Regions from separate parts of the Homo sapiens genome. Here all the other regions are linked to region 1. The links come from fine-mapping of genetic effects on gene expression. A gene starts in region 1. Each other region holds a variant in brackets. All regions are shown on one strand. Distances are between the middles of the regions. Region 1 holds the start of TBCD (tubulin folding cofactor D). Region 2 overlaps TBCD (tubulin folding cofactor D). Region 3 overlaps FOXK2 (forkhead box K2). Region 4 overlaps TBCD (tubulin folding cofactor D).

Region 1 (8,132 bases):
AAATGGGGTTTCACCATGTTGGTCAGGATGGTTTTGATCTCTTGACCTCGTGATCCACCCACCTCGGCCTCCCAAAGTGTTGGGATTATGGGCGTGAGCCACCAGGCCTGGCCTTCCTATTGATTTCTAATTGAATTTGATTATACTTTGCATGCTTAAATTCTTCTCAATTTATTGAGATCTGTTTGCATGGAGAGAGAAATCCTACTCTATTCCTCTTCTTATAGGCCACTAATCCTATTGGATTAATAATTCACCCTTACGATTTTATTTAACCCTAATTACCTCCTAGAGGCCCTTCCTCCAAATACAGGTATATTAGGGGTTAGGGCTTCAACGTAGGAACGGGGGTGGGCACCATTGAGTCAATAGCAGGATATGGGATTTATCTATTTTTCCTGCAGTTCTTTTACGTATTTTGAAGCTGTGTTATTAGAGGTGTAGGCATTTAGGATTATTATGTTCATTAGTCGACTCCCTTTGTGAAATGACTATATTTGATTTTCTTTGCTTTGAAATCTACTTTGTCTTGTATTAATGTAGCCACTCTAGCTTTCTTTTTTTTTTTCTTTTTTTTTTTGAGATAGAGTTTCACTCTTGTTGCCCAGGCTGGAGTGCAATGGCGCGATCTCGGCTCACTGCACCCTTTGCCTGTGGGTTCAAGCGATTCTCCTACGTCAGCCTCCCAAGTAGCTGGGACTACAGGCCCACGCCACCATGCCCGGCTAATTTTGTATTTTTAGTAGAGATGGAGTTTCCTTATGTTGCCTAGACTGGTCTTTAACTCCTGGGCTCAAGGGATCTGCCCACCTCAGCCTCCCAAAGTGCTGGGAATTGCAGGCGTGAGCCACTGTGCCTGGCCTCCAGCTTTCTTTTGACTAGTGTTAGCATGGTATATCTTTTCTATCCTTTCAAGCTTTTTTTTTTTTTAGTAGATAATGTCTTTTTGCACATAACTTATTGTTGGATTTGCTTTATTTTTCCAACCTGCCAATCTGTCATTTACCAAGAGTATTTATTTTTGACATTCGTATTTAATGTGCTTAGTCATATAGTTTTGAGTCTGTCATCTTGCAATTTGTTTTTTGTTTCATCTGCCCTTTGTTCTCTCTTTACCTGCCTTCCTCTGGGTTGAGTATTTTATGTTTCTGTCTTACCTCCTTTGTTGGCTTACTAGGTATCTTTGCTGGGTTTTGAATGGTCCCTCTAGGGTTTAGGCAGCACTTGGCTCCGAATTGCAACAGTGGCCTCTTTTCCCTTGTTGTCCAGGTGAATGAGTGGCAGGATGACTGGCCGACCTTTTTCGCCCGGCACCGGCTCCAGGCGCAGCTGGACCTCATTGAGAAGGACTATGCTGACCGAGAGGCACGAGAACTCTGGTCCCGGCTACAGGTGGGCACGGCAGTGACTTCTCTGGGAAAGAGCTGGTCCTCTCATGATCCCGCCGCATTTGTGCGGGTTCATCTGTAAAACGGAGCTGGAGCAGGGAACACTGAGTCCTGGAGCACACATCAGGGAGGAAGGGGGGCAGGGGCGGGGGTTCCCCCAAAAGGGAGTCCGAAAGGAGTGAGGAGTGAAGACACACTTGGCTCCTCGTGCCCCTCTCCACTGCTAGGTCACCAGGTATTTAGCCTCAGACTTTCCTCATGTGAAACACAGGTGCTTGTAAATGGTGGTGTTTACCATGATTACTGTTCTTACTATCAGTAACACTTGTCCACTCCATCGTGTTCCTCTCCCATGGGAAGATGTGGGTACCAGATGATCCAGAATGACTGATTTCAAAACATAACTCTCGGCCGGGCACAGTGGTTCACGCCTGTAATCGCAGCATTTGGGAGGCCTAGGTGGGCAGATCACTTGAGGTCAGGAGTTTGAGACCAGCCTGGCCAACATGGTGAAACCCTGTCTGTACTAAAAATGCAAAAATTAACCGTGCATGGTGGTGCATGCCTGTAATCCCAGCTACTCAGGAGGCTGAGGCAGGAGAATCACTTGAACCCGGGAGGCGGAGGCTGCAGTGAGGGGAGATTGCACCATTGCACTCCAGCCTGGACGACAGAGTGAGATCCTGTATCAAAAAGAAAAAAAATCAAAATATAACTCTCAAAATGTTAAAAAAGAATGTGCATGTCAATCCAGAGTGAGTATACATCAAAGAGACTTGAACTCATTAATGAAGAAACTAGGCTGGGCACGGTGGCTCAAGCCTGTAATCCTAGCACTTTGGGAGGCCGAGGTGGATAGATTTTACCTGAGGTCAGGATTTCAAGACCAGACTGGCCAATATGGTGAAACCCCATCTCTACTAAAAATACAAAAATTAGCCGGGTGTAGTGGCGGGTGCCTGTAATCCCAGCTACTCAGTAGGCTGAGGCAGGAGAATCACTTGAATCCGGGAGGCGGAGGTTGCAGTGAGCCGAGATGGCGCCACTGCACTCCAGCCTGGGTGACAGAGCAAGATTCCCTCTCAAAGAAAAAAACAACAAAACCAAACAAAACCTGCAGACATATATGTGTAGCGAAATAAAAGTGGCCAGAGTTTGCTAAGGTAGCGCAACACTGGTTCCTATTCTGTGGGTCGATTAAAACTATAACCTCAGAGGTTCTCCACTGTGTGGGGATTCTAGACCTAAATTAGGAGGAAATCCTAAGTTAGACAAAGCTAGACTCCCCTGAAGTCAGGTGGCCCCTATTTCTGGGCTTGGCAGGCAGTGCTGGGGCTGGACACCGAAGCAGATCGCGAGTGGGCTTTGCCTTATTTCCAAGAACGAGGTGATGAGACCGGGGCTCCCAGAGGCCAGCGATAACTGCAGCCGTTGCTCTCGTAGGTGAAGATCCCGGATCTGTTTTGTGGCCTAGAGATTGTCCCCGCGTTGCTCCACGGGGATCTCTGGTCGGGAAACGTGGCTGAGGACGACGTGGGGCCCATTATTTACGACCCGGCTTCCTTCTATGGCCATTCCGAGTTTGAACTGGCAATCGCCTTGATGTTTGGGGGGTTCCCCAGATCCTTCTTCACCGCCTACCACCGGAAGATCCCCAAGGCTCCGGGCTTCGACCAGCGGCTGCTGCTCTACCAGCTGTTTAACTACCTGAACCACTGGAACCACTTCGGGCGGGAGTACAGGAGCCCTTCCTTGGGCACCATGCGAAGGCTGCTCAAGTAGCGGCCCCTGCCCTCCCTTCCCCTGTCCCCGTCCCCGTCTCCGTCTCCCCGTCCCTGTCCCCCCGTCCCCCGTCCCTGTGCCCCCGTCCCTGTCCCCCTGTTCCCGTCTCCCCGTCCCTCCGTCTCCATCCCCCCGTCCCCCCATCCTCCTGTCCCCGTCCCCCCGTCCCCGTCCCTCCATCCCTGTCCCCCGTCCCCCTGTCCCCCTGTCCACATACCAATCCCCCTGTCCCCGACCCCCCATCCCCGTCCCCCATCTCCGTCCCCGTCCCCCCTGCCCCGTCCCCGTCTCCGTTCCCCCGTCCCCATCCTCCATCCCCGTCTCCCATCGCCGTCCCCCCGTCCCCGTCCCCCGTCCCCGTCCCCCCTGTCCCTGTCCCCCTTCCCCCGACCCCTCCCAGATCCTGGGGACCAATAAAGCCCGCAGCGGGTCTCGGCTGGCGTCCTGCGCCTCGTTCCTCCGCTCGTGGGGCTGCTTTCAGGGCCAGACGCACGGCGAGCTGTGCACGGACGTTTTTGCGGCGATTCAGGGGAAACGCACGCGGACCCGGTAGCCAAGGCCAAAGTCGGCGCAGCGCCCACCGCGGCCTCCGGGCCCCGCTCCCGCTCCCGCTCTGGGGCGCGCCACCACTCGGCGCGGGGCCCGTGTGATCCGCGCGGGTCCCAGCGTGGCGCGAATAAGTGTCAGGGCGGTTGGCTCTGAGGGGTGGGTCCCGGGGCTCGCCTCGCGCCCCCGACTGCGTGCTCAGGCCCCGCCCCTCCCCGTCCACGCATGCTGAGGCTCCGCCCCGCTCCGCGGTCCCCCGGTCCCACCCGCCCCCGCCCCGCCCCCGCCCCGCCCCCCGGCGTGTTGTGGCTCCGCCCCGCTGTCTCCGGCCCCACCGCAAGCCCTGCCCCTCCCACCCACGCGTGCCCGGGCCCCGCCCCCGTTGCGCGCAGCCCCGCCCCCTATCGCGTGCTCAAGCCCCGCCCTGGCGGCCCCCGGCCCCATCCCGAAGCCCCGCCCCCCCGCACACCGCCTGCTCAGGCTCCGCCCCGCTGTCCTCCGGCGGCGGCCTCACCCCGCAGCCCGGCCCACCGCGTCTCAGGCCCCACCTCCTGTCCTGCCCCGCCCACCGCGTGCTCAGGCCCCGCTGAGCGGTCCCGGCTCCGCTCGCGCCCTGTGGGGTCCACGGCGCGCTCTTCCAGAGCCTTTGGGACCCGTGCCCGCTCGCGTCCTCAAGTGCACGCGCCGTCCCGCGCGCGGTATTTTGGCGGCCGACGCGTTCCGTAGCGAGGCCGGCGAGTGGGGTCGGAGGTCGCGGGGCGGGGCCAGCGTCGGTTGCCGCCTTAGCGGGCGCCTCCTTTTCATCCCTCATCCTTCATCCCTGGCTTTCGCGCTCTAGCGGAGTGGGATCTGCGAACACGTGAGGCGGGGGCGCGGTCCCCAGGCTGCCGAGATGGCCCTGAGCGACGAACCGGCCGCGGGCGGCCCCGAGGAGGAGGCGGAGGACGAGACACTGGCCTTTGGCGCGGCGCTGGAAGCGTTCGGCGAGAGCGCGGAGACCCGGGCGCTGCTGGGCCGCCTGCGGGAGGTGCACGGCGGCGGCGCGGAGCGCGAGGTGGCCCTGGAGCGGTTCCGCGGTGCGTGGGCGGCGCCGCGTGCCCGCTTCCTCCCCCGGCCCGGGTTCGGCGCGCTGAGTGCACTTTACCGGGCGGGGACCGCAGCCCGGCGGCGCCGGCCGCTCTGCGAGGGCTGCCGGTGCGCGGTCCCGCGGGCCGTGGTGGGGCGCGGCCTTCCTAGGCGGGAGAGGGCCACCCCGGCGCGGCGTTAGGTGCACGGGGCAGACGCGCGCCTCCCTTGGGGGGACCGTGGCCCGCGGAGCGCCTGCTCTCGCACGGGGTGAAGCCTCTGCGGCCTCCCCGGGAGGCGGGGTGCAGAAGCCCTCCGTCCCCCGTCTCCGTCACTGGAGGAGGTCCCTGGGCTGGGGAGACTCGGGCCAGACCCCTCCGGACAGCTGGTCAGCCCTGCAGTGTGGACTCCCAGGCTTGCCTCCACCGAGCGCGGTTTCTGTGAATGTTGTGTGGACAGGGAGATAGGGAATGAGAGAGGGGGACGCAGGGAACAAACCTGCTGCAAACAAAGCGCGCCTCGGGTGGGGAGGGCAGCAGCCTGTCCGTTCCGTGGACGCCGTGGACAGAGCGGGCTGGCCGGGTCCGTGCCTCTGCAGGCGGGGTGGGGTGTAGGTACCCCTGTGGAGGCCATTCGATGAGTCTAAATTCTCCGAGTTCAGACCCACCTTTACCGCTGTCTATAATGGGTTATTTCCAAACAAGTCCTTAGGAGCTCATAGCTAAGTAGTTACATGGGGTTTTGTAATTCAGTAAAATCATCTTTGTAGACCCTTTGAGTAAGAAGAACTTTTGCATTATTTGGCCTTCCTCATTTTAGAATGACAGCGCTTTGATTTTAGGAGTCAGGCAGGGTGGGGGGCCTTGTGGGAGGAGTGCGGGTTCGGCGTCAGATCCTCCTGCCTGTGAATTCTGGCCCTGTCGCTTGGACCTGATACTTGATTGCCTGTTTCTTCGGGTGTAAGCTGGGGCGGATAACGATGCCTCTCGTGCAGAACTGTTCTGAGGGTGAGGGACCCTCATCCAGGGACCAGTGAAGCCAGATTTTTTGTTCCTGGTGTAACAGCCCAATGGCTTCTTCCTTTTTTTTTTTTTTTTTTTTTTGATACGAAGTCTTGCTCTGTTGCCCAGGCTGGAGTGCAGTGCAGTGGTGCGATCTTGGCTCACTGCAACCTCAACCTCTCAGGTTCAAGCTATTCTCCTGTCTTAGCCTCCCGAGTAGCTGGGGCTACAGGCGCGCGCCACCACGCCCGGCTAATTTTGTATTTTTAGTAGAGGGGGTTTCACCATGTTGGTCAGGCTGGTCTCAAACTCCTGACCTCAAGTGGTCGCCCGACTCAGCCTCCCAAAGTGTTGAGATTACAGGTGTGAGCCACTGCGCTCGGCCCCAGTGGGTTCTTTCTGCGGGCTGCCCAGATAGAGTTGATTTGTCAGGGCAGGGGAGTTGCCATGGAGAAGATTTAGTTCACGCAGAGCCGGTTGAAAGGGAGACTAGACTAGAGGTTTTTTTTTTTTTTTTTGAGGCGGAGTCTCACTTTGTCCCCCAGGGTGGAGTGCAGTGATGAGATCTCAGCTCACTGCAACCTCCACAACCTCCACCTCCCAGGTTCAAGTGATTCTCCTGCCTCAGCCTCCCGAGTAGCTGGGACTACAGGTGCGCGCCACCACGCCCACCTAATTTTTCGTATTATTAGTAGTGACGGGTTTCATCGTGTTAGCCAGGATGGTCTCGATCTCCTGACCTCGTGATCCACCCGCCTCAGCCTCCCAAAGTGAGCCACCACGCCCGGCTGGAGTTTTATTATTACTCAGATCAGTCTCCCTGAGAATTTGAGGGCCAGGGTTTTTTAGAGGTAATCTGGGGGAAAGGGTGGGGGTGGCTGATTGGTTAGGGGTATACAATCATAGGGGAGTCGGAAATGATCCTCCGTGATGTGCTGAATCGCGTCTGCGTGGGGCCCCAGGAGCAGTGGGCGGGTCCAGGTGGAGCTATCATGGGTCCGTGGATCCTAGTGTAGGTGTCAGACATGGAAACAATCTGAAAAGATATCTTTAAAGGCCAGTCTCAGGTTCTGCAATAGTGACATGGTCTGCAGGAGTAACTGGGGAACTCGCATGTCTTGTGATCTCAAGAATAATGGCTGGCAATTAGGTTACGCCTTAGCGGAATTCAGGCTCCTCTCCTCCTCCTAGCCTGGTGGCCTCTCATTAACTTTACAAAGGCAGTTGAGTTTTGGGGAAGGGCTCTTAGCATTTAAACTATAAATTAAATGTCTCCCAGAGGTAGCTTGGCAGCTTGAAGACTAAAGGCATGAGGGGGTTGCCTGGATCAGATCTGCCCCATTGCCATAATTTCCTCACAGATCACTTTTGCAAAGGCAGTTTTGCTGGGAAGCAGTGGGTGTGTTCAGATGTGGAGGTGGGAGCTGCCGGATTGGACAGAAGCAGTTTCAGCTGCTGAGAGGAGGAGAAAGCGGTGGTTCAGGGTCTGGGAGGTTGTGAAGAGCTGGCAGCTGTGTGGAAGGGAGCAGTGCCTGGATATGTCAACCAAAAAGTATCTGAGACGAGTCTCAATCAGTTTAGAAGGTTAAGGGTGTGCCCGTGAGGCAGCCTCAGGAGGTCACATGTCCCCAAGGAAGTCGGGCTACAGCTTAGTTTTACACGTTTTAGGGAGACGTGAGACATCAATCAATACCTGTAAGATGTACATTGGTCTCGTCAGGGAAGGCGGGACATCTTGGGTGGGAGGGCGTCCAGGGCATTGGTGGATTCAAATATTTCACGATTGGTGATTGGTTGAAAGAGTTTATCTGAAGACCTGGAATCCATAGAAGGGATTGTCTAGGTTAAGATAAATTGTGGAGACCAAGGTTTTTCTTATGCAGATGAAGGTTCCAGTTAGCTGGTTTCAGAGAGAATAGATTGTAAATGCTTTTCATCAGACTAAAAAGGTACCAGACTTAGTTAATTTTCTCTTGGATCAGGGAAAAGACCTAGAAAAGGAAGGGATTCTCTACAGAATGTAGCTTTTCCCAGCAAGAGACAACTTAGCAGAACCATTTCAAAATATGTCAAATATATTTTAGGGAAAAATATTTTGATTTCTTTCAGGGCCTGCTGTCTGTCATGTGATGCTGTACTAGAGTCAGGCTGGAATTTGGTGTCTTATTGCTACTTAAGATCGGTTTTAATGCTAATACTGATCAGCTGTGCCTGAATTCCAACGAGAGGAGGGTATAATGAGGCCTATGTGGACCACTCCCCACAATCCCTTAATATCATGAGGCCTGAACTAGTTTTTCAGGTTAAGTTTGGAATGCCCTTGGCCAAGAGGAGGGGTCTGTTAGATGGC
Region 2 (8,132 bases), 170 kb after region 1:
TGCAGGGTGGTTTCTGTCTGCCTCTCTCTACCCCCAACTCCAGCTTTCCCACCCTGCCCTCTGCTCTGGGGCACGTGTGCTGTTGGGATGCATCCCTCAGGGTTCACGGCAGGGTGTGGATTGCTGGGGGGCATCGTGGAGAAGGGCATCTTTATGGGAGGCATCCCTGCTCTGGGCCCCCTGCCGGCCTCCAGCTGTGTCTGCACCATGAGTGTGTTTGCTGGAGTGCGGTGTTTGCACTCCCTCACACCGCTGAGTGCAAACGCGGCACTCCTGCACATGTCGCCTCGCACCGTGGCGGGCGTGTCCCGTGGAAAGCTGCCCATGCTGCCCACGCCCTCCCTGGGGGCCCCTTGGCTGCCTGCACTCCCCAGCCGTGACCTCAGCTCCCGGCGCCGGCCCTCCTTGTGCAGCTCCTTCCCCTCCATGGCCTTTGCTGGCCCCAGGAGACTCTGGCCTGCAGGCTCTGAAGCCGGCTGTGTCCCTGGTGATCCTGACTGAGCCTTGGTGTCAACTCAGGTTTTTTTCTCCTCCTCGTTCATTTTTACACTTCGTAGGAAATTATTTTCCCTTTCAGCTTTCAAGTAGGAATAGTTCAGAAGGGGAAATAGTTCTGCATAGCGTCTGTGGTCTTGGCCCCGCATCTCCCAGTCCCACATTTTTATTTTTCCAAAGGCAACCCTTTCAGTTTTTTAGCTGTCTGTTTTCCTTGCTTCTGTATTTCTGAGTTCTGTATGTACGCAGCTGTTTCCTGATATCCTTAGTTTTAGATGTGTTCTTTCAAGTGAGACAAGACTCCAAGCTCTTGTCGGGGTGAGAAATCTGCGGGTTCACGGGCTACATGTGGGAGACGGGGAGGGGCTGCTGGTCACTTTCTCACCCAGGCCAGAGGATGGCGCCCTTACCCCCGAGGACGCCGGCATGTCGGTGACATGCCGCCCGCAGGAGCATCAGGTGCGCCCTGGCCGCAGGTGCCCCGGAGGTGTCGAACCGCAGATTTCTTCAGACGTTTTTTGCACATTTTGTGGGAAAAGTGGCTCAACCCTTGGGAGTCGTCTGCGTCCCCATATCAAAGAAATGTCATACAGGTTGGCCTTTGTCGTGAATATTCACGAGAGGAGATGAACATCCTGGATGTCCTCAGCGTGGCCTGAACTGAGCTGCTTCCCCCGGTGCCAGGAAGATGAGCGTCCCCTTGTCTCCGTCTTAGTCTCAGTGGCTCTTGCATTTCATGCTTTAGAATCAAAGGAAAGAAACAGGAACTCTGTTTAGTGAAGCAGCGATGAAGGAGGGGTTTGTCAGTCAGGGTGGACTGCGTTTTGCTCTTGAAACAATCCCCAAGTTTCAGTGTCTTAAAACCACAGGTGTTTTTTTATCCTGCTCACATGTGGATCACCGAGGGCAGGGGCCGGGAGGAAGGGGGTCATCTGGCTCACAGCCTTGCACCAGAGGCGTCACGAGAATCAGGAAAAGTTCTCCTCTCATGCCGAAGACGGGAGGGAAACCAGAGGGACTGGTGAGCCTTGAGTCGGCCACAGGTGTGTGGAGGATCGTGACTTAGCAAGCCGGGGACACGCTGTTAATGGACTTCCTGCTGTGGGGGTGAGGGCTCCGTGCTCCATCTCTGATGCCCTGTACACACCTGCCACCTCCCCTGTCCCCTCAGCAGAGACATGGCCGGTGCTGTCGTGCCTTTCGCTTTTACCTGTATCTTAAATCACACAGGAGTTCATTCGGATTTACCTGTACAGATACCCTGTTCTCTTTCTTGTTCCGTGGGAATTCACTGGGATTTACCCACACAGCCACCTGCTGCTTCTCCTTCTTGTTCTGTCCTGCATTTCTCACCTTCTAAGAGGACCATTTTCTCTTTGCCTGGAGAACACTCTAGTGTTTTCCATAGTGTGTGTCTGCTGGTGGCACCCTCTCGTTTGTTTATACCAAAATGGCTTTTTCCACTTTTTTTTTTTGAGACGGAGTCTCATTCACTCTTGTTGCTCAGGCTGGAGTCACAGTGGCGCGATCTCGGCTCACTGCAGCCTCCATCTCCCAGGTTCAAGTGTTTCTCCCGCCTCAGCCTCCCGAGTAGCTGGGATTACAGGCATGCGCCACCGTGGCAGGCTAATTTTTGTATTTTTAGTGGAGATGGGGTTCCACCATGTGGGCCAGGCTGGTCTTGAACTCCTGACCTCAGGTGATCCACCCACCTCGGCCTCCCAAAGGTGCTGTTTTTTTTTTTTTCCCCACTTTGATTCTTAAAGGTTATTTTTGCTAAGAATGAAACTTTAGTTTGCATTTATTCATTCGTTTGTGTTTTGGCACTTTAAAGATAATAGTCTCTTGTCTTCTGGAGAGGTTAGCTGCCAGTCTACTTATTACTGTATTGGAGACAATCTTTTAAGTTTCGCTGGCTTCTTTTGAGATTTTTATCTTTATTTGGTTTTCAGCACTTTTACCGTGATATTCCTAGAACAAGTTCCCTTTGTGTTTATCTGACTTGGGGCTCTAGGGTTCATACTTGTTCCATAATCTGTATTTTCTGTCGATGTTTTGTTCACTTTAGAAAAATTCCTAGCCATGATCTCTTTGAACATTGCTCACTGGCCTCTCCTCTCCTTTTGGGACTCTTATTACCCACGTCTTGTCTGGATCACCGCACTTAATTCTTTACGCCTCCTTACACTCCCTCCTCTGGTTTTGTCTTATTCAGTTTGGACTTTTTTTTTTCTTTTCTTTTCTTTTTTTTTTTTTTGAGTTGGAGTCTTGCTCTGTCACCAGGCTGGAGTGCGGTGGCACAATCTCAGCTCACTGCAACCTCCGCCTCCCGGGATTAAGCGATTTTCCTGCTTCAGCCTCCTGAGTAGCTGGGACTACAGGCATGCGCCACCACACCCAGCTAATTTTTGTATTTTTTGTAGAGATGGGGTTTCACCACGTTGGCCAGGCTGGTCTCGATCTCTTGACCTTGTGATCTGCTCACCTTGGCCTCCCAAAGTGCTGGGATTACAGGAACATTTTCTTTGATTTAAATTTCATTGTCACAAATTCTTTCAGGTGTGCCTTATCTGCCGTTAAACGCATCCTTGAATTTTTTTATTTTTCAGAACTTATTTTTTATAGTTTTCATTTTTTTCACATCCTGGAACATATTAAGCATGGTTTAAAATCTTTGTTTAATGTCATCATCTGGAGCCTCTGTGGCTGTTTCTGAAGGACGGTATATCATACATGAAAAGCATCTCCACCAAGCTGCAGGAACAAGACATGACAGAAATGCTTTGAGGTCTGCAATGTTCTCCTCTCCCAGAGAGACTTGATGTTGGCTCTTGACGGGAGGCGGGTGCTTGCTGTCGGGGTCACCTCCATTGGGTTTTGGGACGTAGGAGGGGTCCGTGCTGGGCTGGCCCACGTTTTACACCTATTTCTAGGTGTGGTCCTCTGGGTTCAGAGCCTGTGGTGAGGGCTCTACCGCTTCTCCCTTTGGTCATCCTGGACTCCCGTTCTCCTGCTAGCTGGAGATGCTCCTGGATGCACTGTTGGGGGTTTCTGGTTCTTGTGGCGCCCCCTGGAGTCAGCCGTGAGCCGGGGAGAGTTGGCCCCCGCCGCTCTGTCCCTCTCAGGTCTTCGTGAGCTCTCTGGTAACTGCAGGCACTTCCTGTGTGTTTTCATTTTGTCTGGCTTTTAAAAATGTCTTAGTGGAGGGTTGGTCTGCGTTATCTAGTCTGTTAGTTTTTAAAAAATATTCTTCATTTCGAAATAATTATAGACTTACAGGAAGTTATGAGATTAGTAATAGAGCCTGGCTGTGCTTCCCATGCTTCCTCCGCGGTGACTCCGGGTATGACAGTGTTGGAGCCGGGACTGCGGTGTCGAGGCCCTGCCTCTAACTGGACTGCAGGCCTGTGCGGTTTCGTGGCTTCATGTGTGTGTGGAGTGGCCATGTGTGTCTAGTTTCGTGCAGATTGATGCCCTGTGTAGATTTCTGTAACTAACTCCACACTCAAATCAGAAACCTGCATCCTTCCCACAGAGACAGCCCCTGCCCTTTGCATTCTCACCCTGCCCCCCTGCCACCAGTCTGTCCCTTCTAGAATATGCCATGATCGACTCGTATGGTCGTGGCATTTCGAGGTGGGCATTTTCTGTGAGCGTGGTGCCGAGACCCCATCCAGCTGTCCATGTGTTCACAGTTTGTGCCTTCCTAGCCCACGGTTGGGTTTTACCAGAGTGTGTTCGACCAGCACTCAGTAGAGTACACTGGGGCTATTTCTATCTGTTGCTGTTGTGAACAAGGTTGCCAGGAATATTCCTGTGCGAGATGTGGGTACAAGCCTTTTCATGTCTACCACTGAGTCCCGTGTGCCGTTTCGTGAGAGGCTGAGGCACCGCTTCATTCCACCGCTGAGCCCCGCGTGCCGTTTCGTGAGAGGCTGAGGCACCGCTGAGCCGCGCGTGCCGTTTTTAACTTGATTATAAAATACATTTAAAGTTCACATGCAGGTGCATCTCCAAGAAAATTATTTTAAAAACTAGTTAAGACTTTCATTTCCCAGTCCTCAACACACATCAGAGCAGTACTCTGTTCAGAGCTGAAAGGATTCGCGCTGGGACAAAGGCGTGTCACTTGAGTGAGTGATGGTGTCACAGGTGCCCACGTGGAAGAAGGTAAAGTCGTATCTAAAACTAAATGTGAGAGTAACTAATAACTTACGCATAAAAACTACCATCATAAAAATCCTCGAAGAAATTTTAGGAGACGTTGTAGGACAGTGTCAGTCTCTGAAGAAAACTTCTTAGTTTAGAAATTTTCAAATCTGCGCAGAAGTAAAGAGAAGTAGTTTACGGGGGGGGCCCAGAGTCTCGCCCGGCGCTTCCTTTCTCCTCCCCTCCTCTGAGTTTAAAGAAGACCCTGAATGTCAGGTCCCAGCAGCCCCTCGCTGGGTTTTTC[T/C]AACTTGTGGTAAGAACTGGTTTTCTGGGGTTTTTTGTTTCTTTTTGTTTCCCCCCTCTTGGCATGTAATCCCCAGCTAACAGATTTTATCATAATAATTCCACAAGGTAGAAACAAAAGGAGATAATTATGTTGGGCCTTATATTGAAGAATAGACCATGTGTAGGTTGGTAGGGAAAACGGAGATTGAGAATAAACGTCTGTTCTACAGTCGAAAAGGTAAAAAGTTAATTAGTGTACAAAGACTAAATTGTAAAACTGCCTGTGACGAGGTAAAGGATCCAGTATGAAATGGGGCAGAGCAGACGTGTGGGCATTTCATGCAGAAGAGGAGCAGACTCACGTGGCCGTGGACGGTGAGGGTGCCGGCCTCACCTCGGAGGCATGGAAGTACCAGGTTACTTCACATCGAGAGGACCGTTTTCCTCTTTCCAGTCGGCTGCGGTTGGCACTGAAGAATCTTGGTGCTGACAGACACAGAGCAGGGTCTCTCGTGGAACAGGAGTTGTCTGGTCTGTTCAGTTTGATGAGTGGCAGTATCTGTGACGATGGGAAGTGTGTGTGTGGTCCCTGTCCTGTGTGCAGGGACGCCAGGTGGACCGACGGCCTCCGCATCTGTAGCACGGTCAGGCCTCCTTGTTCACGGTGACAAAAAATGGAAGGAGAGTTTAGTCCCTCAGGAGAAATAGCAAATACCATGAACAAGTGTGCAGCAGGCGTCTGCGAGTGGGTTCCGTTGTTAGGTAGAGACGGTGGGAGCTAGAGCAGTGTGTGGCCGTGGGAGCTGCTGATGCTGTCCAGTCGTCTCTGTCTCGTGCGTCCTGGCCCCCTCGTGGCTGGTCAGGGCCACGTTTCTGGTCATGGAGAGTGTGAGTGACGAGCTATGTGGGGAAGTGACAGGCATGACCTGTGGTCTGGAGCATTGCAGGTGATGGCTGTCTGTCGCTTGGGTCCTGAGTGACAGGTCTAGGAGCAGAAGCCGCTATGCTTCCCGTACAGCCTGTCACAGGGACGTCTGCAGCTCCCTGACAGGCCGGCCCGGCTTCTCTGAAGTGCACGTGGGCTCACACATGGGCCTTCTGCCACGTGGCTGGGTCTGCAGCACTTTCTTCAGGCTGCTCAGCGGAGGAGGCGTCTTGGGCTTCTCATGGTGGTTCTGAAATGGTTCTGGGATGTTTCCAGCCCTGGCAGCAGGGTAGGTTGGGCGGGTGAGGGGCAGGAGCTGGCCGCACACAACTCAGAATGTGGCAAAGGCAAGCCGCTGTGGCAGGCGCTTTTAGAAAAGTAACATTGCGTCTATCCTTTTTTTTTTTTTTTCCAGTGTGTGTTTTAATAGAAAAGTTGTCACTTTCCAAAATGCCCTTTAGAGGTGACACCGTAATTGGTAAGTGCTTTTGTTTTTAATAATAGCATTTTCTTACAGAATGACTTCAGATTAAAAGGTAAAAATGAACCTGTTAGGATGGGGGCGATAAACGATTATAGCTTAAAGGTTCAAGATATTAATCGGATACGTTGCCTTGAAGTTGTTACAAGAACCTGCTTAAATAATGGGTACCCACCGCCCTCTCCCCCCAACACAGGAGGGCCCTTCCCCGCCGTCACCTCAGTACCCCCACCTCCTCGCTTCCATGCCCAGGGCCCGGCACTCTGGGTCAGTTCTTCTCCCAGGCAGACAGTCGGGAGCTGCAGCCACCCAGGCCCTCGTGGACCAGGAGCGTGCCGGCCGCCGACACCACGGACCCTGTGGGCAGAGGCGGCTCCAGTTCCTCAGCAGCCCCCCACACTGGGCTGCCAGAGCACAGTGAAGGGAGCCCCCAGGGCTGTGGTGTCCCGGGGCTGTCTCAGCAGCCTCAGAAGTTAGGACTTTTTTTTTGTTAATTGAATAGCCTTCACATTTGTTGCTTGTGCAGGATCTAATTGAGTTAAAGATTTGGGTTTATATTGGTGGGAGCCGGGGGAGACCGTTTGAAGGAAAAGATTTAGGGGTAACAAAAGAATAAAAGTTTCCCAAAATGTGATGTATAAAAATTTACAGAATGCTGGTATTTCCCTCAATAAGAGCTTACACAATTTAACAGCCATGAGAGGAAGGGGCCTTAGACTTAACACAACGTGGAGAATGTTCACTTTGGCTTTTCCACAGATTCCTCTCAAAGGTTACCATCGACTTTAAGATTAGTATTAATAGAAGCTGTTTTTGCTGTTGTTTTTGATTTCATGGTGTTTTTGATTGCCTGGGTACGCTAACTTGATTTTTTGACAGATGGTTGGCAATGGCTGATAAATGACACTTTGAGACATCTCCATCTCATCTCAAGTCACTCCCGCCAGCAGATGAAGGTACAGTGAGCATGGGCGTTCCCGGCCGGCGCTGTGGCGGTGTTAGTGTGTTAGTCACGGATGGTGTTTGTGTTGGCGACTGTGCATCATGAGGCTGTCCCTGCAGTAGCCTGATAACTGACAAATGGGGGCATAATTCTATTTGGAATCCCGGATGGTAGCGTCTACACGGTTTATAACCAGAAAATCCAATACAGCCATTGGAATCCGAATGTTTAATTTTTTATTGCTTCTGGCTGTTTTAATTATAGTTACCTTTGAAATACTTTTTCTGCATCAATAGTAACTGTGCTCTGTTGAGTTCCGTGTCCTGTAGGATCTGAGGTTTGGAAACTCCCTTTATGATGCTCCTGTGCAGATGAGAAAACAGCACCCCAGGACCTCTGCTCGCACACATTGACCTGGTCATGTTGTGTGGGTGCCAGTGTGTGTGTGTGTCCCCGGCCACCTGCCCTCCCCTCCCGTCCTGGGGGTTACAGGTGGACTTTGGACTCACAGAGCTGTAACGCTGATCTCATTGCATAGATAAGAAACCATGGGCCCGGCGCAGTGGCGGGTGGATCACTTGAGGTCAGGAGTTCGAGGCCAGCCTGGCCAACATGGTGAAACCCCATCTCTACTAAAAATACAAAAATTAGCGGGGCGAGGTGGCGCGTGCCTGTAATCCCAGCTACTCAAGAGGCTGAGGCAGGAGAATTGCTTGAACTTGGGAGGCGAAGGTTGCAGTGAACCGAGATCACGCCATTGCACTCCAGCCTGGGTGACAAGAGCAAGACCCTGCCTCAAAAACAAAAACAAAAACAAAAACAAAAAAAACCATGGTTACCAACGTTGACTAGGT
Region 3 (8,000 bases), 200 kb before region 1:
ATCTAAATGAAGGCTTCTTTTAAGGGGCAGACTGATAGCTCAGTGTTGTGTGAGCACCTGCTGTGGGGGTGCCACACCCAGGAGCTGAGCAGAGGTCCACCACAGCTGCCCACTTGGAGCCCAGAGCTTTTGCCTCTTCTGGCAGCTTCTCTTTGCTTGTTTGAATAGTTCTGGGCTCTGCTCTGAGAATGGTCATGAGAAACCGGAGCAGTAGGAAGGCCATGATAGGGAAGAGTCTTTCTTTTATTTTTATTTTTTAGTGAGACAGGGTCTTGCTAGAGTGCAGTGGTGTGATCATGGCTCACTGCAGCCTTGAACTCCTGGCCTCAAGTGATCCTGCTGCTGCAGCCTCCTAAGTAGCTGGGACTACACGCCAGCATGCTTAGCTTTTTTTTTTTTTTTTTTTTGAGACGGAGTCTTCTTCTGTCACCCAGGCTGGAGTGCAGTGGCGCAATCTTGGCTCATTGCAAGCTCCGCCTCCCGGGTTCATGCCATTCTCCTGCCTCAGCCTCCCGAGCAGCTGGGACTACAGGCACCCGCCACCACGCCTGGCTAATTTTTTGTATTTTTAGTAGAGATGGGGTTTCACTGTGTTAGCCAGGATGGTCTCAATCTCCTGACCTCGTGATCCGCCCGCCTCAGCCTCCCAAAGTGCTCGGATTACAGGCGTGAGCCACCGTGCCCAGCCAAGCTTTTTGTTTTTTTTATAGACATGAGGTCTCACTATGTTGCACAAGCTGGTCTTGAACTCCTGGGCTCAGTTGATCCTCCCACTTCGGCTTTCCAAAGTTCTGGGATTATAGGCGTGAGCCACTGCGCCCGGCCAAGCTTTTACTTTGAAAATTCTTTGGCTTTTACATTTTATGCCATGTGCATTTATCATCTGTTAGTGACAACAACAAAAATACTTATTGATCATCTTCTCTGGACAGTAGTTAAATGGATTTATTCTTTTTTTTATGTAAGCCACCTAATCTTCCCCTTAAATTAGAATATTTGTGGAGAAAGTCCTAGGGAAATGGCACTGTGCTGGTACAGTACACACACACACGCCACCCAAAACCGTGGGCCCAGAGATGCTTTGGAATCAGAGCAGACTGGATTTTACAACAGTAGCACAGCGTGTGTACTGGGTATGATTTCTTATTCCCAGCACTGCGTCATCCAACATGTGAGCATTTCTGTTGCTGAACTCATGAATATTCTCACTAAGTGGGCTAATTGAAGGGTATAATTAGTTCTTTCTCAGTTTAGGTCAGAATTGGCTGCCAGATGATTTCAGGTCAGATTTTTTGGAGCTTTTTTGCTTTCTGGAATTGTGGAAAAGGGATTGTGGACCTTTATGGGGCATAGAGCGACTCCAGGCAAGTCGCTGTGGGAGGGGTGTGCAGAGTGAAGTGCTGGCGGGTGGCCGTCCTCAGTGGCTTTGGGACCTGGCTTCCGTCCAGCTCTGTGTCTGCAGTGCTACTGTCTGTCCCCCTTTCCTCTTGGGAGCCAGTGCTGCCCACCCAGGTCCCGGGGGCGCACCCTCTCCATGGTGTGCTCTGTTGCTCTGCGTTTACGGAGATGGAAAAAAATAATTAAAAAAAAAAAAGAATTGTCGATCTGCCCCGTCTGTCCTACTTGAGCTTTTCTCGGACCTGTCATCTGTTCTTCCTTCTTCCCCATTGCTGCTGACCTAGTGGTTTCTCACTTGGACTTCTGGAGGGGTTTCTTAGTTGGTCTCCATTCCTCTCCACTTTGTAAAAGTATCATCTAGACACAGAAAAGTGCACAGATTCTAAGTATAGCTCAGTAAGAACCACTGGTACGGTCTGTTCTAGTGAAGACGTGACGTCATCAGCATCCACCTCTCCCAGCCAGGGCCTCCCACTCCTCAGCTCGGAATTCCTATCCCGAATTCTAAACCATAAATTAGTTTTGTTTGCTTTTGAACTTCATATCCATGAAATTGTACAGAGTCCTTTGTAGGAGACGGTGTTTGTTTTTTATTGAATACTGTGTTTCTGAGGTTAGTCCATATTTTTGCACGTAGCTATTGGCCATTCTCATTACTGGAAAGTAGTAACGTGGATATACAACGATTCAATATTCTGCTATAGGTAGACATTTAAAGTAATTTTATTTGGGGCTATTATGAATAATGCTGTTGTGAATATTCTTATAGTCTTTTTTTTGTTGTTGTTGGAAGGCTTTTTTTTTTTTTTCTTTTGAGACAGAGTCTTGCTCTGTCTCCCAGGCTGGAGTACAGTGGCACGATCTTGGCTCACTGCAACCTCTGCGTCCCAGGTTCAAGCGATTCTCCTATCTCAGCCTCCTGAGTGGCTGGGATTATAGGTACGCACCAGCACACCTGGCTAATTTTTGTACTTTTAGTAGAGACGGGGTTTCACCATGTTGGCCAGGCTGGTCTAGAACTCCTGACCTCACATGATCGACTTGCCTTGGCCTCCCAAAGTGCTGGGATTACAGGCGTGAGCCACCGCGCTTGGCCGATGTGTTCAGCTTTCTTACCAACATGTTGGAAAGCGCTTTGTGCAGTTCATAGCCATTTACACTGTGTGAGATCCAGTTCAGGGTGCCTCAGAGCTGCCTCAACTTTTGACATTTTCTCTCTTTTTTATTTTAGGTATTTTAGCAGGTATTGTGGTTTTAATTTGCATTTCCCTAATGACTAATGATGTTGAAGATCCTTCTATGTGCTTACTTGCTACCAAGCATGGTTGGTTTTTTTTTTTTTTTTTTTTGAGATGGAGTCTCGCTTGGTCGCCCAGGCTGGAGTGCAGTGGTGCCATCTTGGCTCACAGCAACCTCCGCCTCCTGGGTTCAAACAATTCTCCTGCCTCAGCCTCTTGAGGAGCTGGGATTACAGGTGCCTGCCACCACTCCCGCCTAATTTTTGTATTTTTGGTAGAGACGGGATTTCGCCGTGTTGGCCAGGCTGGTCTCAAACTCCTGACCTCAGGTGATCCACCTGCCTCGGCCTCCCAGAGTGCTGGGATCGCAGGCATGAACCACTGCACCCAGCCAGCGTGGTATATTAAAAATACTTTCCTGCACATTAACAAATGTTCACCTCTCGGTGCAGCTCGCCTTGTAAGTGTGGTGGGGAAGCTAGGAGTCTGAGTGCACATGCAGGAGCTCTTCGCTGCAGGTCCCGAGTGGAGGGAGAGGTAATCTGTAGAGTGCCCCAAGAGTGAAGTGCTGCGTCCCAGTGTCAAACAGAGGTAACACCTCGCTTTTCTTTTCCTTTTTTTTAAACGGTGACGGGGGTCTCACCATGTTGCCCAGGCTGGTCTTGAACTCCTGGGCTCAAGTGTTCCTCCCACCTCAGACTCCCAAGTTCAGGGATAATAGGTGTAAGCCACTGAGCCCAACCTAAAACTCGCTTTTAAATAAAGAACTCAGGCCGGGTGCGGTGGCTCACACCTGGAATCCCAGCACTTTGGGAGGCCGAGGCAGATGGATCACCTGAGGTCAGGGGATTGAGACCATCCCGCCCAACATGGTGAAACCCCGTCTCTACTAAAAATACCAAAATTAGTCGGGCGTGGTGGTGGGTGCCTGTAGTCCCAGCTACTCTGGAGGCTGAGGTGGGAGAATCACTTGAACCCGGGAGGTGGAGGTCACAGTGAGCCGAGATGGCACCACTGCACTCCAACCTGGGCGACAGGAGCAAAAACTCCATCAAAAAAAAAAAAAAAGGAAGGAGAAAGAAAGAAAGAATACACTGATCTCTCTTATAGTGTATACTGTCTATTACTACTGATTTTAAAGCTACAACCTTAAGCATCATACTCCCTGTGTTTAGAATATTCAGGGTGTAGTATTGTGGTTCACATTGTAGTATTGTGGTTCTCCATTGTGGTTCCCCGGAAGTGATCAAGGTGATACTTTACATTCAGGGTGTCCAGTCTTTAGGCTTTCCTGGGCCACATTGGAAAAAGTATTGTCTACACTAACAAGAGCTGGTAAGCTGAAAAAATCACAAAAATCATAATGTTTTAAGAAAGTTTATGAATTTGTATTGGGCCACATTCAAAGCCATCCTGGGCTGCATGCAGCCCACGGGCCGTGGGTTGGACAAGCTTGTTTTAAGAGTTTAGGAAGAAAAATAATACTTCTGGTTATTTTTTTCATCCTGCTTAGTTGCTATTTTTCTGTTTTACAGTGTGCAATACTGTAATATAATTTATACATATATTAATATATTGTTGCCAGCTTATTTTTACTTTAAACTTTTTTTTGAGGAATATTTCACATAAAACAAACTTAAGGGTACCTTTCAAAGAGTTTTGACAGCTGTATACACCATGTAGCCGAAATCACAATCAAAATAATAGATCCAGATATTACCCCTCACCCCAAACCTTCCTCTTGCCCCTTGGCAGTCAGCCTCATCCCCCTGGAGAGTCCCAGACACTCAACTCTGTGCCTCCCCTCCCGTAGAAGTGTTTTCTTCCAGGGTTTCATAAACATGGAATCATGTAGAATATACTGGTGTTTGGCTCGCTCTTATTCACATGGTATATTTGAGGTTCATCAGTGTTACTTGTGTGGGCAGTTTTCCTTTGCGATTGCTGGGCGGCAGCTGAGTGGATTCTCTTCTATGGATGTACCCCCATTTGTGGATCCATTCACCTACGGCTGACTGTCTAGACAGTGTCCAGTCTGGGCTGCTGTGCATCACGCTGCTGTGAACGTCTGTGTAGGAGTCACATTTGTGTGAACTGGTGCTCTCACTTCTCTTGGCAGATAACTACAAGTACGAGTGGTGGGGCCAGGTGGTCAGTGTGCATTTATTTCACAGAAAAGCTGACCCACTTTTCCAGAGCAGTTGCACCAGTTTGTATTCTTGCTGGCAGTATGTGACAGCTAGTTGCTCCATATCCTTG[T/C]CAGCACTTGGTTTTGTCAGTCTTCTTATATTAGCCATTATCTGGGTGTGTAGTGGTATGTCAGTATGTGTATTTTTTTTTAATACTTTGGATCATTTACATCAACCGTGGTTTAATTTGCCTTGCTGTTGAGCATCTCTACATGTGCTTTTGGCCATTTCTATGTCATCTGTAGTGAATGACCATTTTTAATGGGTTGTTTACCTTCTTACTGAATATTAAGCTTTGTTTATATACCCTGAACAGAAGTCCTTTGTGAGATAGGTGTATTGTGAATATTTTCTCCCATTCCATCCTTTGCCCTGTTTGTTGATACTGTATTTCATATATTCAAATATTGATTTCTACTTAATTTTTCACTTAGAGGTGTACAGTCAAAAGCATTTGGAGGCTACTGCTCAGCTGAATTAGCAGAAGGAATTGCTGTGGACTGAATAGAGGAAGGAAAGGACCCAGGCGCTGTCCCACAGCCTCTCCCGTGACCTCACCCTGGGGGAGGCATGGGTGTTTGGCAGAGAGCCCTTTTTGGTTTTACGTGAATGTCATTTGGGCGGGTGTGGGGTAGAATGATCTCAAGAGCATTCTCACCTCCGAGGAGCGGTTGCGTCTCGATGCATCGGCACAGGAGGGCTGTGCACTTTCCACTGCCACCACCCGTGAGACCTCCAGAGAGCCTGACCCTGCCATCTGCACTAAGATCCCCAGCTGTTGTCTGGTGATCCAGATGAGAGGACCAGCGTGATAGTTTCTCACAGCAGCCTCTGGCAGGACCTGGAGTGGAAATCTTCCTTAGTCTAAAACACATCCCGAATGACTGAACATTATAGGAGAATGTGTCTTTGTTTTACGAGGCCACTTGAAGTCCACCTCCCTCCTCTTCTGGGTGTGGCCCTTGCCTGTAGCTCCGAGTGTGAGGATCTTAAGTGTGAGGGTGTGTGCTCCTGAGCCAGCCTTTACCCCAACACCAAGTTGCCACACCGAACTGCAGACCTGGCAGCCCTGTCCAGCAACTTCCTTATCACAGTTACAGTGCAGCAAATGGGAGAGGGGCCAAAACCCCCAAAATTATTCTCCTTATTACAGTTACAGTACAGCAAATGGGAGAGGGGGGCCAAACCCCCAAAATTATTCTCCTTATTACAGTTACAGTACAGCAAATGGGAGAGGGGCCAAAACCCCCAAAATTATTCTCCTTATTACAGTTACAGTGCAGCAAATGGGAGAGGGGGGCCAAAACCCCAAAATTATTCTCCTTATTACAGTTGCAGTGCAGCAAATGGGAGATGGGGGGCAAAACCCCCCAAATTACTCTCCTTATTACAGTTGCAGTGCAGCAAATGGGAGATGGGGGCCAAAACCCCCCAAATTACTCTCCAAGCCAAAGGAAAACTCTGGATGCTCGATAGCCACTTACAGAGCTGCTCATCACATGCGTTGTTGGAACACCTAACACTAGCCTCCTGGTTATGAATGTTTCTGGAATCGAGCCTCCCTGATATGTGCCTACAGAAGCGGATCTGCCTGAGGACATCCGCCATTTCCTAATATTTATACCTTAGAATATAGAGCCAGCTTCATAACATGTGGGGTCCAGTGCAGAATGAAAACATGGGACCTGTAGTTGAGAAAGCAGGAAAAGGCCGGGCCCAGTGGCTCATGCCTGTAATGCCAGCACTTTGGGAGATTGAGGTGGGTGCATCACTTGAGCCCAGGAATTTGAGACCAGCTTCAGAAATACAGTGAGACCCCCATCTCTACAAAAACAAAACAGGCAGGTGTGGTGGTACGTGCCTGTAGTCCCAGCTATTCAGGAGGCTGAGGCGGGAGGATTGCTTCAGCCTGGGCTTGCAGTGAGCCATGATTGTGCCACTGCCTTCCAGCCTGGGCGACACTGCAAGACCTTGTCTCTAAACAAACACACACACACACACACAAAGAGCTTCTTTATGTCTTCTGTGGATTCCTGGCCTGCCATAGTGTTTTTAATTTGCCACTTGACTTCAAGCTTTCCCAGGAATACGTGTCTGAAGCAAGGCACCCCTGTTCACACCCCACCAGGGACATTGGACAGTTGTGGGGGAAGAAGGGGGTGCAGGAGCAAGATGGGCTGTGTCCCATTGAACTTCACTACAGAACACCAATTTAAAGATAAATGATTAGGGATTTCAAGATGTTGGCAGTAAGGCATTAAACTCCATGCCTGGCCCTTCTGAGGCGGGCTTTTTTTTTTTTTTTTTTGAGATGGAGTCTTGCTCTGTCCCCCAGGCGGGAGTGCAGTGGCGCAATCTCGGCTCACTACAAGCTCCGCCTCCCGGGTTCACGCCATTCTCCTGCCTCAGCCTCCCGAGTAGCTGGGACTACAGGCGCCCGCCACCACGCCCGGCTAATTTTTGTTGTATTTTTTAATAGAGACAGGGTTTCACCATGTTAGCCAGGATGGTCTCGATCTTCTGACCTTGTGATCCGCCTGCCTCAGCCTCCCAAAGTGCTGGGATGACAGGTGTGGGCCACGGCGCCGGCCCTGAGGTGGGCTTTGTGCAGCTGTGCTGGCCACACAAGCCTGAAACCGGCCTTGTCTGTATGGAAAAGTTCTGTGTCAAAACTAGGTGGTTTCTAAGTCACTGTGAAGCACTGCGTGCAGTAAGCGTGCGTCACTGAAAGATGACACTTGCAAGCCAGTACTGAGCCGGGTCGTTAGGTGTCAAAGCCTGTTTTAAGCTTCGGAGGCTTAGGTTAGAAGATTTGTGCTGAAAGGCCGGAAGTGGTGGCTCACGCCTGTCATCCCAGCACTTTGGGAGGCCGAGGCGGGCGGATCACAAGCTCAGGAGACTGAGACCATCCTGGCTAACACGGTGAAACCCCGTCTCTACTAAAAATCCAAAAAATTAGCCGGGCGTGGTGGCGGGCACCTGTAGTCCTAGCTACTCGGGAGGCTGAGGCAGGAGAATGGCGTGAACCTGGGAGGCGGAGTTTGCAGTGAGCTTAGATTGCACCTCTGCACTCCAGCCTGGGCGATAGAGCGAGACTCCATCTCAAAAAAAAAAATTAAAAAAAAAATAAAAATAAACATGATGGCATGTCATGAGTTTTGAAGGATAAGAAGTT
Region 4 (8,132 bases), 180 kb after region 1:
GACTCCTGCCTGTGTGGCGGGTGGGCCTCGCAGCCGCCATGCCATCTAAAACTCGCATGTGGGGGTTTATCCAGTTGAAACACAGATAAATGTGAAACAGGATCACTTGGAGATATGACAGATGAGGTTGTCGGGACCCAGCAGCTTCCTTTGTCAATACCCCAGGTCTCAGCGTAGGACAAAAGGGGGGGACCTCAGGTAGGGTGTGGCCAGACCCCCAGTGACACCCTGGGGTGGGGGCTGGCCGTGGAGAGGCTGGAGGTGACCTCTCCCCGGGTGTCCTTCCTGGGTTGTACTGGGGGCCGTGGAGAGGCTGGAGGTGACCTCTCCCCGGGTGTCCTTCCTGGGTTGTACTGGGGGCCGTGGAGAGGCTGGAGGTGACCTCTCCCCGGGTGTCCTTCCTGGGTTGTACTGGGGGCCGTGGAGAGGCTGGAGGTGACCTCTCCCCGGGTGTCCTTCCTGGGTTGTACCGGGGGCCGTGGAGAGGCTGGAGGTGACTCCTCCCCGGGTGTCCTTCCTGGGTTGTACTGGGGGCCGTGGAGAGGCTGGAGGTGACCTCTCCCCGGGTGTCCTTCCTGGGTTGTACCAGGGGCCATGGATGGCCGTGAGGAAGGTGGTGCCAGGAGCTGCCTATCTCATGGTGTGGGGTCTGTGGCTCCGGGCCAACATTGCCACCTCCCTAAAGAGTGCACTTTGTTATAGCTTATGGTTCTTCTGTGATTCTTTATTGCTTTCCAGGTTCTCACAGGTTTAAGAGCAGTTACCCACACTTCCCCCGAGGACGTAAGTTTTGCTGAGTCCAGGAGAGACGGCTTGAAGGCCATTGCGAGGTGAGTCCCAACAGTTCCTCCCTAAAGTCGTAAGTCTCTGAAAGGCCAGCAGATGAACGCTAAGGGGGATGTTTTTGCTCAGAGGCAGGACTTATGATTCTTCACTTCCTAGGTTTCCTCTCTTCCAGAGGATCGTCAGTCCCAGCTGCTGGAGGCTCTTTCATTCTCTTGCTGTCATAGTCGTAGTGAATGTTAAACTTCTTTAGGGACACTGGGCCCCTTGGAGAATTGGAGAATGTGTCCTGGCCCAAGGTTGGCAAAGAGGAGCTGACCCTGCCAGCCAGTGTTTGGAATGATCTCTGCACTCGTTGACAGACACGCACCTGGGGCCACGCCATATGCCCTCTCCTCCCTGCAGGCACACAAGAGGAGCAGTCCCGCGGGGGCCACGCACGCCCCCTTCTCTCCTATGCCAGCATCCGTTCCCTCTAGTCAGGGTGGGAAGTGGGAGGGACCAGCCGCAGGGGGCGTCCCCATCCACCTTTCAACCGGAGAGACGGCAGAGCGTGACCTCGGGGAAGCACGTCCCACGTTCCATACATGTGGAAGGAGCTCTGTGTTTCTGATCTACCCGAGGGTCCTGGACTGTTCTGAGCGTGTCTTCTCAGGATCAGGAACACACATCAGCCCTCTGCGATGTGGAAGATGAGGCTCACCGATGTTTGTTTGTTAGCTCACACATTTTAAATTTCAGGATTTGCCAGACTGTTGGTGTGAAAGCAGGAGCCCCAGACGAAGCTGTGTGCGGAGAGAATGTTTCCCAGATTTACTGTGCGCTGCTGGGCTGCATGGACGACTACACCACGGACAGCAGAGGGGACGTGGGCACCTGGTACGTACGTAGCAGTGGGTGAGCGCTTCTTCTGAGAAGCCCATCTATTCCGTGGAAACTCGGAGGCCCCGGGCTTTTCTGCAGGGAGAAATCTTTGTAGATTTGTGCCGTGTTTTGCGTTTTAAAGGCTCTGGGGAAGATGACCTGTTCTCTGCTCCCGGGTGAGCCTGCGTGGCAGGGCTTTGCAGGTGCTTGTCCAGCCCGTCCTCAGGTGTTGGGCCTGTGTCGTCCTCGTTGACAGGGTGTGAGGGAGGACGCGTCTTCAATGAAAGGCTGCCGGCTGCTTACATTGGGTTTTGCCAACATTTCTTGCTGTAGTGGGATTGATAACCCCTGAAACGCCTGTGTGTGTAGGATGCCTCGGGGCCCCGGTGTGTGTGGCTGTGGGTGGCTCCCTGCACACGTCCCTGTAGCGCACAGGGAACCTCTGCAGGCCCCGTGACTCCCTGGCAGCGTGCCTGGGCTCTGTGTGGGGTTAGTCACGGGTGTCGAATTCACACAGGCTGCCGGCGTGGTGGGCAGAACCAGGGTTGGAACCCCCCTCTCAAGCTGGGTGTCTCTGCCTCTCCTTGTCCCATCAGGGTCCGCAAGGCCGCCATGACCAGTCTGATGGATCTGACACTTCTGCTGGCTCGGAGCCAGCCTGAGCTGATCGAGGCCCATACGTGAGTGTCACGTCGCAGCTCTTCTGCATCCTAGAGGGCAGCCCCGAGCTTGGGGAGGCTGGCGGGGCGGGCGGTCCTGGTGCTCAGTGGCATTTGCACTGCTGGGCACACACCCTCCTCCCAGAGAGCCTCTCTGGTCCCTGACCCCAGGTTTGTGCAGGCCCCTCCTCCTGCCCCCATAGCCATGGCGTGAGCTGGGGCCCATCCTCCTCTGCCCAGTGCCCCCAGGACGAGGCTCTGCTCCCCAGCCTGGGCCTCCAACGGTGCTCTGGCCAGTTTGATGACAGCCAGCTTCCCGGGGTAGGGCCGGGCAGGAGGTGGGGACTTCTCAGCTTAGGACCCTGAACCTGGGGGTCTGCTCCTGCCAGGACCAGCTGAGCCATCACTCAGTTCCCTGCACCTGAGGCTGCCATTGGGGCCTGCCCTTGCTGTGTGTCTCTGTCGGGGGCACGGGGTTGTGGGTACCCCCAGGCCCTGCCCTTTCTGTCGGTCTCTCTGTCGGGGGCACTGAGTCATGGAGGTCCAGGCCCTGCCCTTGCGGATCTCTGTCAGGGGCACTCAGTCAGGGGGTCCAGGCCCTGCCCTTGCGGGTCTCTGTCGGGGGCACTGAGTCATGGGGGTCCAGGCCCTGCCCTTGCTGTCAGTCTCTCTGTCAGGGACACTCGGCCGTGGGGATCCCAGGGCCTGATTTCCTTAGTTCTCACCTCTTTCTCTTTCCCCCTCCCCATCTCTTCCCCAGCCCCAGCTTCTCTCTCCCCATCCCCGGCCTCTCTGTCCCCATCACTCTTCTCCACCCGCTCCTGTAATCCTATTTGTTGTCCCTGCTTCAACCCTAAGACCTCATCAGCACGCATGTAACACGTAGCACATGTGTAACAAGTACGTAGCATGTATTTGCTGCGCACCTGTAGGGTTGGGCTCCTGGGATGTGAAGGTAACGGAGTGTGGTTCTTCCGAGCCAGTGTCCTGGTGTCAGCTGCCAACTCAGCCACCATGTCCCGAGGAGCCCGCATGTCCTCGTGGTGCTTGGGCTGGAGTCACGGCTCGGACCGCCTGTGCTCAGTTTACCGCCCGCTCTTAATTTACCGCCCGCCCTTGGTTTACCTCCTGCTCTCGGTTTGCAGCTGTGAGCGCATCATGTGCTGTGTGGCCCAGCAGGCCAGTGAGAAGATTGACCGTTTCCGTGCTCACGCCGCCAGCGTGTTCCTGACGCTCCTGCACTTTGACAGCCCTCCCATCCCCCACGTGCCCCACCGAGGAGAACTGGAAAAGCTGTTTCCCAGGTACTGTCGGGGTGTAGGCCCCCCGTGCTGGCCCCGCAGCCATGGCGAGATCATTGGC[A/G]GCCCGGCCTTGTCTCACTCACTCTCTTGCAGGTCCGATGTGGCCTCCGTGAACTGGAGTGCACCTTCCCAGGCCTTCCCACGCATCACCCAGCTCCTTGGGCTGCCCACCTACCGCTACCACGTCCTGCTGGGGCTAGTCGTGTCCCTGGGCGGCTTGACGGAGTCGACGGTGAGGAGGCGTCGGGCTGGCTGGGGCAGGAGGTGGCTCCAGGAGTGCCTGGTGCTTCCCTGTCTCTTGGGAGCATGTATGGAGCTGGGCCTTTTCTTCCATTGCTTTCTATCTCTCTCGGGCATATTTGGTTAGGGGGTCAGGGGCCCAGTGTCTTCCTCATGACCCAGGAGGCTTAGGGCCTGTGGGATGGTTGAGTCTGATGAAGGTGGGACAGGGCCAGCGCCACTCTCTTCCTGCGGCCGCAGCCTTGGAGCTCCCAGCGTCCCCTCGGGGTTCAATCCTCCAGGACCTGTGTCTGATGCCTGCATGTGGGTACCTGGGCTCCATCAGGTTCTAGATCGGCCTCCGCCCTCCACTTTCAGGGCTCCAGGCCCAGCTTCTCATGTCTGTGGGGAGGGTCTCCAGAGCCTTGGTCTGTGGCTGAGCTGTGGAACTTGAAGGCCTCTCTGCATCTTGTCACTCGTGGCCCCTGCACCTTGGGTCATGACCTGCTTTATGTGGCAACCCTGTGACAGCTGCTAAGTCCTAGAAAACACGTAACAGGACGTGAGGTGCCCTCTGCGCCGTGTGGGCGCGTGCGGGGAGACCCGGGCCCCAGGACGTGAGGTGCCCTCTGCGCCGTGCGGGCGCGTGCGGGGAGACCCGGGCCACATGCGAGCGGGGCCCCGAGACATTCTGCACTCGGGAATTGCGGGGATTATCAAATCCCGCTTCAGTGGGAAACGTGAGCGAAACCCAAGGTGAGTGGCCGCAGCCTTTCGTCACGTGCTCTCCCGCATGTCCTAAGTGAGGGCTCAGGCTGAGCTGCCGTTGCCGAGAGCCTTGTGTCTGCTTCGGGTGTCTGCACTGTGAGTGGCTCCGTGCTGGCGTCCGCACCAGCCGCTTGGGGCCAGACCTTCGCGTCTCTGCAGCTCGGAGCAGTTCTGCTCTTCAGCAGATGCTTGACCGGCTGTAGCCAAGCCTGAGGGGTGGCAGGCTCGGGGGTCCCACTGCCTTCTGAGGTGTCTCCGTGTTGCAGATCCGGCACTCCACCCAGAGCCTCTTTGAGTACATGAAGGGCATTCAGAGCGACCCGCAGGCCCTGGGCAGCTTCAGCGGGACCCTTCTGCAGATCTTTGAGGACAACCTTCTGAATGAGAGGTGAGTGGTGTCTCTTGGGGCCTCAGAGGCGTGAGTGGTGCTGGTGCCTCTCACCACGTTCCCACAGATTCCCGGGGTCTCGCAGGGTCTGTCTGGGGTCTGAAGGGAGAAGCGAGACACACGCTGTACCAGTTGGTGGCTCAGCGAGGAAGATGTGCCTGCAGCATATGGTTCTCCGGGCGGCCAGGCCTCAGCCCCTGCGCCTCCTCTTCTAGCCTCCACATGAGGCAGGGAAATGACCGTTGTGTGTACAATGGACGTAAAGGTAGTATGAGTACAAGGTGGTCCCTGTGTGTAGGAAGGCGTTGTGGGAGCTCCTCCAGCTTGGTGCTCCCACGGACGTGCTTGCGGACGCTCATCAGCCACCCGGCAAGTGAGAGCTCTGTGTTCCTGAGGATGGAATGTCAAGTGAGAAACATCGCTGCTTTCTAGAAGTTTCTGGCTTTACATGGAGGCAGAGTATAGACCCTGTGGGCCTTGACCTCAGAATTGGGAACATCCTCTGGAAGGGTTGTTCCCAGCATGTGCGAGGACGAGGACACGGGCCTGGTGTCCCCTCGGGCGGGGCCTCGGCAGCCTCTCCCATGAGAGCACAGATGCCGCTCTCGGCAAACAGGAACTCGGCCCAGCCATGTTTTCTTTTCTCGTTACGACTATAATCAGCTGCACATAAAGGGGCAGTTCGATCGATTTTGATAGGTGTCCACCCTTAAAATCTTCCCCAGTCAGGACGGTGGGCTCCAGCCCAAGGTTTCCTCCCAGCCCTTCGAGTCCGTGCCCCTGACCTGCGTCACCATAGCCTCAGCCCATGGTCACTTGAGGCGCTGGGCCGCGTGCCGGTCGCTCATTCCTCCGTGCCGGTCGCTCATTCCGCCTTGCCGTTCGCTCATTCCTCCTTGCTGACCAGTCGTGTCTGTTGGTGGAGGCACCACAGTGCATCTGTCTGTGGGCATTTTGGTTGTTGCCGCATCGGGGCTGTTGCTGGTAGAGCTGCAGGCAGTCTGTGTGTGCGAGCCTGTGGGTAGGTGTGCACAGCTGGGCCTCCCTCTCTGTGGGCTGCGGAGCCCAGCTCTCCTGTGTGTTAGTCGGCCTGTGCTAAAGCTCTCCTGATGCTCCTGTCGCCCAGAGGGGACCTCCCCAGCCTCCTTTTCTGTGGGGTAAATACCGAGGCGCCGCAGGCTGGCTCACACAGAGGCGAATGTCTAGCTTTGGAAAGCTGCTGGAGGGTTTCCAGAACGCCCACGTGTCATGTCTTTCTGCTGATGCTGTCTGAGGTCACTCTCACTGGCGCGTTGCTGTTTTATATTCTCTTTGGAGAAGTGTCTTCATTTTTTTCTGTTCTCCTTCCCTGACTGTTGTGGTCTGATCCTCCCTTGTCACACATGTGACTTGAGGGTGTTTTCTCCCTGCCTGTCCTTTCACGCACCGAGCGGGGGCCTCACACTTTCCTCACGTCCCAGCATCTCCCCTTGTTCTCTGAGGCACAGATTTTTCTGGTGTGTCTAAGACAGCTTGCCTAATCCGTGGTCACTGAGATTTTCTGTTTTGTCCTAGAAGATTTATAGTTTTGGGTTGTGTATTTAGACCTGGGACGCGTCTTGAGTGAGGTTTCTTACATGGTATAGCGTCGGCACAGGCACCTTGACGCCCAGCGGTGCCCACCCCAATTGCTGGGAGGGCTCCCCTCTCCGCTGCATTGCCGTTGCAGCTTTGTAAGAAACTGTGGGTTTACTTTGGACTCTCCTGTGCCCGACGTGTTTGCTTCACTTTGCACCAGGGCCGTGCTGTTTCTATCCCTTCCACTTTACCATCATTTTCGAAGTTCAGCGTCAGCCTCCAGCCTTGTTTCTTCTTTCCACAGTTGTTTTGTCTTTTCCTGAAGCTTTGCGTTTCCACGTAAATTATAAAGGGGGCTTGTCGCTTTCCACTGGGATCCTGCTGACTCTCAGCCATTCAGGGAGTTGGGCGTCCTTGTTGCTGGTGTCCAGGGTCTCACAGCTCCTTCTCCCCTCAGGGTGTCCGTGCCGCTGCTGAAGACGCTGGACCACGTGCTCACCCACGGCTGCTTCGACATCTTCACCACGGAGGAGGAGTGAGGCTCTGCTTTTCATGACTTCCTTTCCGATTAAGCCTAAGTAGCTCATGTATTAAAGAAAAAGTCATCAGACACAGAGATCAGAATTCCAGGAAATGATCTTCCAGTGCGTTCTGGGTCAGTTATGGTGACTGTAAATACCGTCATCACAGCTGGCCCTCAAAATAACGCAATAATAACATATTTACATAATGACATATTATGACTGTAAGTGCAGTCAGCCCCATCTGGGGCTGAGGCGGGGGCCCTGCTGTGCACTCTCCCCCCAGCTATCCCACCGGGCCAGGGGTGGGCCTCAGGGTTGTGCTGGGAGCCGCAGGGCCTGAAGGGGCCTCGGCTGTACGGGGATGAGACTCGCAGGGGAGAGGGCAGAGGCCGGTGACCTGGCGAGGACTTGCCCAGGAGATTGGAGCTCCTTGCTTCTGCGCCACGCGGATGCCCCAGGCTGGTCTCAGCTGGGTTGTTGGCTCTGAGTGGTCATCTCGTTGCTGCCATATTTTCTTGCTTCATTGAATTTCACCGTGTTGGGCCAGTCTTTTTTTTTTTTTTTTTTTGAGACAGGGTCTAGCTCTGTTTCCCAGGCTGGAGTGCAGTGGCACAATCACAGCTCACTGCAGCCTCTACCTCAGCCTCCCAAGTATCTGGGACTACAGGCATGCGCTGTAGTCTAATGTACGGCTAATGTTTGTATTTTTAGTAGAGACAGGATTTCACTATGTTTCCCAGGCTGGTCTTGAACTCCTGGCCCCAAGTGCCTGCCTTGGCCTCCTAAAGTGCTAGGATTACAGGTGTGAGCCACTGCGTCTGGCCTGGATATATTTGTATCTGGGGCACGTTGGGTCATCCGGAGACAGCGTGGTCTGTTTTTGGGGGCACTGCTTTTTTTTTGTTTGTTTTGAGATGGAGTCTTGCTCTGTTGCCCAGGGTGTAGTGCAGTGGCTCGATTTCAGCTCACCGCAACCCCGTCCCGGGTTCAAGCAGTTCTCTCGCAGACTTCTGAGTAGCTGAGATTACAGCTGTGCACCATCACACCTGGCTGATTGTTTGTATTGTTA

Evidence for each region. PIP is the estimated chance that this variant, and not a neighbour inherited with it, causes the effect.
Region 2: its variant is fine-mapped to the expression of TBCD in whole blood (INTERVAL, PIP above 0.99).
Region 3: its variant is fine-mapped to the expression of TBCD in CD8 T cells (Kasela 2017, PIP 0.95).
Region 4: its variant is fine-mapped to the expression of TBCD in whole blood (INTERVAL, PIP above 0.99).

What each region holds. Positions count from the first base shown.
Region 1 is chr17:82,747,586-82,755,717 of GRCh38, forward strand. It overlaps TBCD (tubulin folding cofactor D), which reads left to right and starts at 4,480. Exons shown (of 39, transcript NM_005993.5): 1 at 4,480-4,792. The coding sequence starts at 4,609. FN3K (fructosamine 3 kinase) reads left to right here. Exons shown (of 6, transcript NM_022158.4): 5 at 1,270-1,392; 6 at 2,832-3,611. The coding sequence ends at 3,170. RefSeq lists silencers at 3,672-4,031, 4,722-5,041 and an enhancer at 7,388-7,682.
Region 2 is chr17:82,914,287-82,922,418 of GRCh38, forward strand. TBCD (tubulin folding cofactor D) reads left to right here. Exons shown (of 39, transcript NM_005993.5): 24 at 6,270-6,332; 25 at 7,215-7,291. Among named protein-coding and RNA genes, the nearest start is that of ZNF750, 78 kb to the left of the region's middle. RefSeq lists an enhancer at 5,572-6,771. The variant T/C (reference allele first, on the strand shown) is at 4,949.
Region 3 is chr17:82,543,388-82,551,387 of GRCh38, forward strand. All of the region lies in intron 1 of FOXK2 (forkhead box K2), which reads left to right. Among named protein-coding and RNA genes, the nearest start is that of FOXK2, 28 kb to the left of the region's middle. The variant T/C (reference allele first, on the strand shown) is at 4,896.
Region 4 is chr17:82,925,662-82,933,793 of GRCh38, forward strand. It overlaps TBCD (tubulin folding cofactor D), which reads left to right. Exons shown (of 39, transcript NM_005993.5): 28 at 739-830; 29 at 1,525-1,662; 30 at 2,244-2,327; 31 at 3,452-3,610; 32 at 3,701-3,839; 33 at 4,861-4,982; 34 at 6,997-7,074. Among named protein-coding and RNA genes, the nearest start is that of ZNF750, 90 kb to the left of the region's middle. The variant A/G (reference allele first, on the strand shown) is at 3,669.